2 linked regions of the Homo sapiens genome follow. The protein of the gene in region 1 purifies or fractionates together with the protein of each later gene. This does not show direct contact. Each region holds a gene or a part of one and is shown in the gene's direction. Other genes may lie near its edges. The genes, in order: PLBD2 and WDHD1.

The links.
Region 2: the proteins of PLBD2 (region 1) and WDHD1 fractionate together in Homo sapiens (co-fractionation; one large-scale study listed by BioGRID). This does not show direct contact.

The regions. Positions count from the first base shown.
Region 1 is NC_000012.12:113,371,948-113,375,762, forward strand, and holds part of PLBD2 (putative phospholipase B-like 2 isoform 1 precursor), read left to right. Parts: intron 1-701; coding exon 702-860; intron 861-2,526; coding exon 2,527-2,627; intron 2,628-2,845; coding exon 2,846-3,060; intron 3,061-3,815. UniProt on the Homo sapiens protein: Putative phospholipase.
Region 2 is NC_000014.9:55,023,986-55,028,597, reverse strand, and holds the start of WDHD1 (WD repeat and HMG-box DNA-binding protein 1), read left to right. Parts: upstream 1-1,498; 5' UTR 1,499-1,570; intron 1,571-1,794; 5' UTR 1,795-1,810; coding exon 1,811-1,887; intron 1,888-4,612. UniProt on the Homo sapiens protein: Core replisome component that acts as a replication initiation factor. Binds directly to the CMG complex and functions as a hub to recruit additional proteins to the replication fork.

The DNA.
Region 1 (3,815 bases):
CAGAACCTGGTATAGGACAGGCAGTGGGGAAATGCTGTGGAAGTCATGGAGGCCTGCATGGAGGAGGTGGTGTCTTAGTGGGCCTTGAAGGATGAACAGGATTTGGATGTGTTTCAGTGAGATGGTGATGGAGCAGCAGTCATGAAGCCATCAATCCTGAGGCAGTGAGTGCTGCCACTCACTCACGGGGATGACCAGGCTACGTGGTCTTTTGTCCCCCAGCAGGCGAGCCTGGACTCATGCAGGTGGCATCTCGGTGGGAAGTGCAGAGGGCCGCATGAAGTCTGGGTGAAACTGCCACGGCATTCTCTTGCCCAGTGGAATCAGAAGGGTTATTGCTGTTTTGTTCCCTGCTATGTCCTCAGTGCTTAAAAAGGAACATAATAGGTGCTCAAAAAAAAAACATTCATGGATTGACTAACTGAACACACATATAGATTGGGGTCCCCAGTAGCAGAGGTGGTGCCATCAGTTATAGGCTTTGCAGGCTAAAGGCTCTCAGGGCAACTTCCAGGGGCCTGGGGTCCCTATCCGGGGCAGAGCTGGGCAGGGAGAGGAGCCTCCAGGGAGAGGACAGCATGAGCAAGGACTCAGGTGGCCACACCAGCAGCCTCCGCTCTGGGGCAGCCTGGGTGGGGGGCTCTCAGGGAAGAGAGCACCCCAGCTGCCCGCCCTTGCCTCGCCCACCCCCTACCCCACAGCTCATCTACATGCACTGGATGAACACGGTGGTGAATTACTGCGGCCCCTTCGAGTATGAAGTCGGCTACTGCGAGAGGCTGAAGAGCTTCCTGGAGGCCAACCTAGAGTGGATGCAGGAAGAGATGGAGTCAAACCCAGACTCACCTTACTGGCACCAGGTGAGTCCTGCTGCCACGCTTGGTGGGAGGGGGCTTCCAGCTGGCCAGCCATCCTGTCTCCTGTTGTTCTGGCCAGCCTTGTGGCATGTCCAGCTGCCCAGCCGCCTCTGTTTCCATCATCATCTCCATCCCTCCTAGCCGACCTGCCACTCATCCATCTGCCCAGTCTCCATCTGTCCACTTGCTGGAACTCCAGCCATCCATCCTAGCCTACCTACAGTTAAATAATGACCAAAAACAAATAGTCAGTTGTTAGCATGGTGTTTTGCTTGTGTACATATGGTGTTTTGCTTGCATACAAGGGAGGTTGCTTGGTAGATTGATTACATTGGATGCAAGTAAAGACAGTATGAGAAAGAGGGGAAGGGGAAAACCAGAAAATCCCAGAAAGTCTGGACACAGTGAATTTTGTTTTCCTTTCCTTGAGTGAGCTGCTGATCAGCTGGCAGCTAACGGAGAGGCCCAGGCAGGCTCTCTGCCTTTGGGCCACTGGCTAGGCCATCATTGGAAAAGTCAGTTATTTATGGATTCCCCGGAAAATGTCAGGTGTTTGCTGTGAGGTACACACGGCAGGCTGTCTCTGTAAAGTGGCCATCAATGCCTGTTAGCATGTCTGCCTAGCCTAGGCCAGGTTTGCACCATTTTCCTCTGTAGAACTTCTCACTGTTTACCCACCCACCTACTCACACCCTAAGACAGACTCTTCTACCACCAACCCATCTACCTGTCCATTCCACACATCCACCACCCATCCATCCACCCATCCATCCATCCATGCATCCATCCATCCATTCATCCACCTACCCACCCACTCACCCATCTACCTATCCATCTATTCACTCACTCATCCATCCGTTCATTTACCCACCCATTTACCCACCCATCCATCCATCCTCCATCCACCCATCCTTCCACCCACCCACCCACTCACTCATCTACATATCTATCCATTCGCTCACTCACTCATCCATCCATCCATTTACCCACCCATTCATCTATCCATTCACACACCCGTCCATCCATCATCCATCCATCTACCCATACATACATACATCCACCCACCCACCCACCCACTCATCCACCCATCCATTCACCTCCCACCTGTCAACCCACTCACCCACCCATACATACATACATCCACCCACCCATCCATTCATCCAACAACCCACCCATCCATCTTGCAGATGCTTACTAAGTGCCCAGTGTGCCTGCCCAAGGCCCCATGAGGGACACACTGATGATACTTTATGGCTATAGGATGTTGAGGCAAAATGATGACAATGGGGAGAAGTCAGATGCATGAGACAGGTGCCCGAGGCAGCAATACAGTCAGTACTGAACTCAGAACAGGAGCAGTTGGCAAGAGGCCAGGCCAGGCTGGGAGGCGTCCTAGAAGAGATGGCTTTTGAACTAGGCTCTTAAGTGGGGCTGATTTGGGGTTAACACAGGGCAGAGACATAGAGTTAATTCATTGAAAGCAGGAGAGTGCTCAGCATGGAGGGGTGGGTGGTAGTTTGGGGGAGTCAAGGCTGGCTGGAGTCTGGAGGGTACCCCCGGGCCTCCTGCTCTGTCTGAACCCCCAGGCCAGAGCCCGTCCCGTTGAAGGAGAAGGTGTGAGCCTGGAGGAGAGGCCTCACCCTCCCTCTGCCCCCGCCCCCTCCCCTAGGTGCGGCTGACCCTCCTGCAGCTGAAAGGCCTGGAGGACAGCTACGAAGGCCGTGTGAGCTTCCCAGCTGGGAAGTTCACCATCAAACCCTTGGGGTTCCTGTAAGTGCCACCCCCAGAGTGAACAGGGTGGGAAGAAGGGCCACACACTCATAGTCGGACAGACCTGGGTTCCAGCATCAACCTTGCCACTCCCTGGCTCTGTGGCCTTGGAACAGTCAGCTGACTTCCCAGAGCCTCAGCTTTCTCCTCTGCAAAATGAGTACATAACAGCACTCACAGCAGGCGTGGTAACCCTCTGATGCCCTGGCCCTCCTCAGCCTGCTGCAGCTCTCTGGGGACCTGGAAGACCTGGAGCTGGCCCTGAACAAGACCAAGATCAAACCTTCTCTGGGCTCTGGCTCCTGTTCTGCCCTCATCAAGCTGCTCCCTGGCCAGAGTGACCTCCTGGTTGCCCACAACACCTGGAACAACTACCAGCACATGCTGCGTGTCATCAAGAAGTACTGGCTCCAGTTCCGGGAAGGCCCCTGGGGTAGGTGGGTGTGGGTGTGTCTGGGGGATGAGCAGGTGGGTGGGCACACACGTGGGGAGTGGTCCTAGGAGGTTTGGGCCTTGGAAACCCTCCCAACACACGGAGTCACTGCAGGGATATTCCAAGAGTTCATTTTGGTTTTGTTTTTTTCTTTTTGAGTTGGGGTCTTGCTCTGTTGCCCAGGCTGGAGTACAGTGGCACAGTCATGGCTCACTGTAGCCTTGACTTCCCAGGCTCAGATTATCCTCCTGCCTCAGCCTCCCAAGTATCTGGAACTACAAATGTGTACCACCACACTCAGCTAATTTGTTTATTTTTTTATTTTTAAGAGATGGAGTCTCACTATGTTGCCCAGGCTTGTCTCAAACTCCTGGGCTCAAGTGATCCTCCTGACTTGGCCTCCCAAAGTGCTGTGATTACTTATGTGAGCCACCACGCCTAGCCAGTTCATCTTGTTTTACATGTTTATTGCCTTTTTTATTTTACCTATTGCTGCTTAACCAGTTACCCCAAAATTTAAAACAACAACAGCTTAAATAACCGCTATTTATTTTTTGCTCCTGCCTCTATGGGTCAGCTAGGTGGTTTTGGTTTTCTGGGCTGGGCCAGGCTGATCTTGGCTAGGCTCACTGATGCATCAGCAGTCTGCTGGCAGGTCAGCTGGGGTGGGATGGCTGGAATGGGATGGCCTCTTCTCCTGTCTGGGGTTGATTGTCAGCCAGGGTGATGGGGACAGCTGGGCTACGTGGTCTTTC
Region 2 (4,612 bases), on another chromosome or scaffold:
TCTTATGCTGAGCTCTGAATAGTACTAACCAGAAATCTCACCACGCTTTATTCAACATAGAGACGAATATTATGAGAGTTCATCTTGAACTCTATGTACTCTAGCCAATGATATTGTTACTTGAACGAAAAAATTTATAAGCCAGTCTATCCAAAAAACAAATGATCTCCAAAAAAAAAAAATTAGGTCACTCAGAAAGCATCATCTCTGGTACCACTGCTCTTTCGGGAGATCAACAGTGGGTTATTTTTCCACAAATCCCAAGTTGTTTTTAAGCCAATCATTCTTCCTCTTCATTCATATACAAACCTCAGCGTCTAGCAAGGCTATCTGGAGCTCTAGTACTAAAAACAACGCCTCACACAATGCCACCCACGGTAAGAACACGACGGTTTGCCTGTGTGTTTGCAACTTTTCACAATGGAACTAGATTGAAAAAAACAATAGGGAAACCTCTTCAACAGAAAAACGTCTCAGGTAATAAAATAAATGTGATTGATACTGGAAGGTATCACAAAAACGCAGAAAAATTCTCAAAGATAAGTACAAATGAAAGAATATCATTCTGAAGGTTTTCATCACAGGCTGCTGTACCAATATGGAGAATGAAGATACAAGAAAAGCATAAACTTAAACTTAGTGGCCAAGACTTTAGCAGATATTGCATGGATCAAATGTAAGTGCTCAAGGCTACTAAGTTATAACTCTTCTTTTGGTTATAAATATTCACTTCAGTAAACTTTAGGTGGGATCTGAATAGAGAACACAAGTTACTTTCTTCATAACGGATATATAGAGTCGCAAAGAATAAGCATTAATTGAGCATTAATTAATTATACCTTCAGGTACCAAGAGAACCAACCGGAACAGAAATTAAGTCATTCCTTCTTTATCTCTACAGAAGCGACAAGGTGAGGGCACGAAGGATGCCAAGATTAGAGGCTCTAGAAGATCTCGCCTTCTTTTCCAGAGAAGATGCTCAAAGATCTGTCTGCTAACTGGGCCCCAAGAAAGAGACCGGATCCTTTTAGGGATCCGGATATTGTTTCCTGGGAGGAGAGCCTGGAGGGCAGGAACAAGACCCCGGCCTGCGAGGCCAGGCAGCGGCCACCCTTCCCCCACTCACCTCCCGGAGCGCAGCTTAACTGGGGTTGTGCGAGTAACTGCTGCCATCACCATCGCCATCAGTCTGGGCGCTTGCTTAAGTGGAGAGGGGAGGCCCAACCACTCCTGCACCTCGTGTAGGTCTTACAAAGCAGATGCTTTTCTGCCACCCCCAACCCCGCTTCGGCGTTCCGGTCCCAACCCAGCCGTCACGGTCATCGCCTCCGCCGGTTCCCTGGGCGCCGCCACCACTTCCGTGTTCAGCTCCCTCCCTTCCTCCCTGATTTGCCCGGGCAACCGGCTAATTTCCACGCGGAGGGCGCCGCAGCTGACGCCACCACCCGGCGACCTCTGTCGGGACCTGCGCTGGGCGTGGGCGGGTCGGCGCAGGCGCAGTGTGGTGAGCGAGCCGAAGCGCGGGAAGCAGCTCTTGTGGATCCTCAGTGGCGGAGGCTCGGTCACCCGGGTGAGTCCCCACTCCGGCTGCCCGCGTCCACCAAGGAGATGCGTGTTCCCTTTCCGGCTTATTGTCTGACAGACCCTCTGCCTTATCCCGCTGGTGTCACTCGGGTGGGGGAAACCGGGCTGCGGAGAACGGGCCCTAGAGGAGACTAAGCTCTCTTCCTATCCCTAGCCTCGCTGCTTTTCTCTTTTGAAATAATAAGACTGGCTTTTATAAAACATTTTCAGATAGGTAAAGGAAAACATGCCTGCCACACGGAAGCCAATGAGATATGGGCATACAGAGGGACACACGGAGGTCTGTTTTGATGATTCTGGGAGGTAAGGTTCTTTGAGAAACAACGTTTTAGGTGCAAATGTTAAAACATTTATCCTTAAACTTTATATGTGCAGTCAGCTAAAAATGACTCATGCGGATAGAGGAATAATGTTGAAATCTAAAATGGCACACATATTTCTTTAGATTATTGTTTGATTCGGGCCGTCATGGTAGTTGTAGTATATCGACAAAGTTATAATCGTACTTCCAGAGGAGTTGGAAAGATGCGAGCTTCTCTCCATATATTTTCCCCTTCCCTGCATCTTACATTATTAATTTTGTCAGATCACTAGTTACTGCCTACTTGTCAAATTCAGTGGCCTGTTCTGTTTGGAATGATATCCTTCCATGCCTTTAGTGATGCTATTTCCCTTTTTGCTTATTTTTTTTTAACTTTTTGACGGCTTAAAACAATTTTTTCCTCTGATTCCTAAACTATAATATTTTCCTACGGTTATTCTGGTCCCTTTTATCTTTCCAAGTCCCATTCTTACGCACTACTGCTCGATTGCACGGCTTCCACTGTCGCTTCTATGTTGATTGATTCATTGAAAAAATACTTGTGTGTCTCTTTTGCTGGGGACTACAGATAGAATAGAGCGAACCAGACACAGTCTTTTCCTCCTTTGAGCTTAAGGTCTTTTTGGATTGACAGGCATTGAACACAAATTAATCACAAAAATAAATGTGTATTTAGAAACAAGTAATATGTGCAGTGATAAACATGTATGAGGAGAAGCTCATCTAGTTAAAGGAGTCAGGGAAGGCTTCTTTGGACAAGTGTTTCTTGAGACGCCATCTGAAGACGGAGCAGGCATTAAGCAGTATAAAGAGATGAGTGGTGGTGGCGGTGGGGTGGTGATGTTGGCATAGTAAGCAGAGGCAATACTGTGTGTAAAGGCCCAATGGGGCCAGGGATCATGGTATGCTCAAAGAACTGAAGGAAAACTAGCCTTACTAAAATGTGGAGAGTGATGCAGAGTTTAGTGAGAGATGAATCTGTGAAGTTAGGCAATGGATGTCCTATCCAAGACCTTCTGGACTTTATTAAGGAATCTCGTTTTATCCTAAAAGCACTGAGAAGGTATTAAAGGCTTGAAGCAGAGAGATGTGATCAGGTTTGTTTTTGAGAAAATGCATGGAGGATGAATTGGAAAAGGAGCACTCATGGATGCAGAAAGACTGTTAGAAGATACCTGTATTAGTTTGTGTAGGGGCGGGTTGCCCCTCCACACTTGTGGGTGTTTCTCGTAAGGTGGAACGAGAGACTTAGGAAAGAAAAAGACACAGAGACTAAGTATAGAGAAAGAAATAAGGGGACCCGGGGAACCAGCGTTCAGCATATGGAGGATCCCGCCAGCCTCTGAGTTCCCTTAGTATTTATTCATCATTTGTGGGTGTTTCTCGAAGAGGGGGATGTGTCAGGGTCACAAGACAATTGTGGGGAGAGGGTCAGCAGACAAACACGTGAACAAAGGTCTTTGCATCATAGACAATGTAAAGGATTAAGCGCTGTGCTTTTAGATATGCATACACATAAACATCTCAATGCTTTACAAAGCAGTATTGCTGCCCGCAGGTCCCACCTCCAGCCCTAAGGCGGTTTTTCCCTATCTCAGTAGATGGAGCATACAATCGGGTTTTATACCGAGACATTCCATTGCCCAGGGACAGGCAGGAGACAGATGCCTTCCTCTTGTCTCAACTGCAAGAGGCATTCCTTCCTCTTTTACTAATCCTCCTCAGCACAGACCCTTTACGGGACGGTCAGGTCTTTCCCTTCCCACGAGGCCATATTTCAGACTATCACATGGGGAGAAACCTTGGACAATACCTGGCTTTCCTAGGCAGAGGTCCCTGCGGCCTTCCGCAGTTTTTGTGTCCCTGGGTACTTGAGATTAGGGAGTGGTGATGACTCTTAAGGAGCATGCTGCCTTCAAGCATCTGTTTAACAAAGCACATCTTGCACCGCCCTTAATCCATTTAACTCTGAGTTGACACAGCACACGTTTCAGAGAGCACGGGGTTGGGGGTAAGGTTATAGATTAACAGAATCTCAAGGCAGAAGAATTTTTCTTAGTACATAACAAAATGGAGTCTCTTATGTCTACTTCTTTCTACACAGACACAGTAACAATCTGATCTCTCTTGCTTTTCCCCACAAGTTTGGGTAAGTGTGATAGAAGCTTGGACTAGAGTAAACATGGGTGTGTAGAAAAGAGTAAACATTCAGGAAATATTTAAAAAGATAAAGTCAACAGGATGGATCAGATATTAAGGATGGAGAAAGAGGCAACAGGGATAACGTCTACATTTCTGAATGTTACGGTTGAGAAAGTGATGCTTCCACTTGCAAATAACAGGAACACTTGAAGAAGGGCGTATTTCAGAGGTAGAGCTGTGGGTGGAGATTGAGTTTGCGTTTGGATGTGATTATTGTAGGATTTCTTTGAGATATTCACCTAGAGGGATAAAGTAGACAGTTGGATAATTGTGTCTCAAGCTCAGAGAAAAATGTGAGCTAGAGATAGAAATATACAATTGACCCTTAACATGAATTTGAATTGTGTATGTCTACTTATACGTGGATTTTTTTCAATACACATATTAGAAAATTTTTGGCAGTTTCTAACAATTTGAAAAAACTAGCAGACGAACCATGTAGCCTAGAAATATGGAAAAATTAAGAAAAAGTATGTCATGAGTGCATAAAATCTATGTAGATAC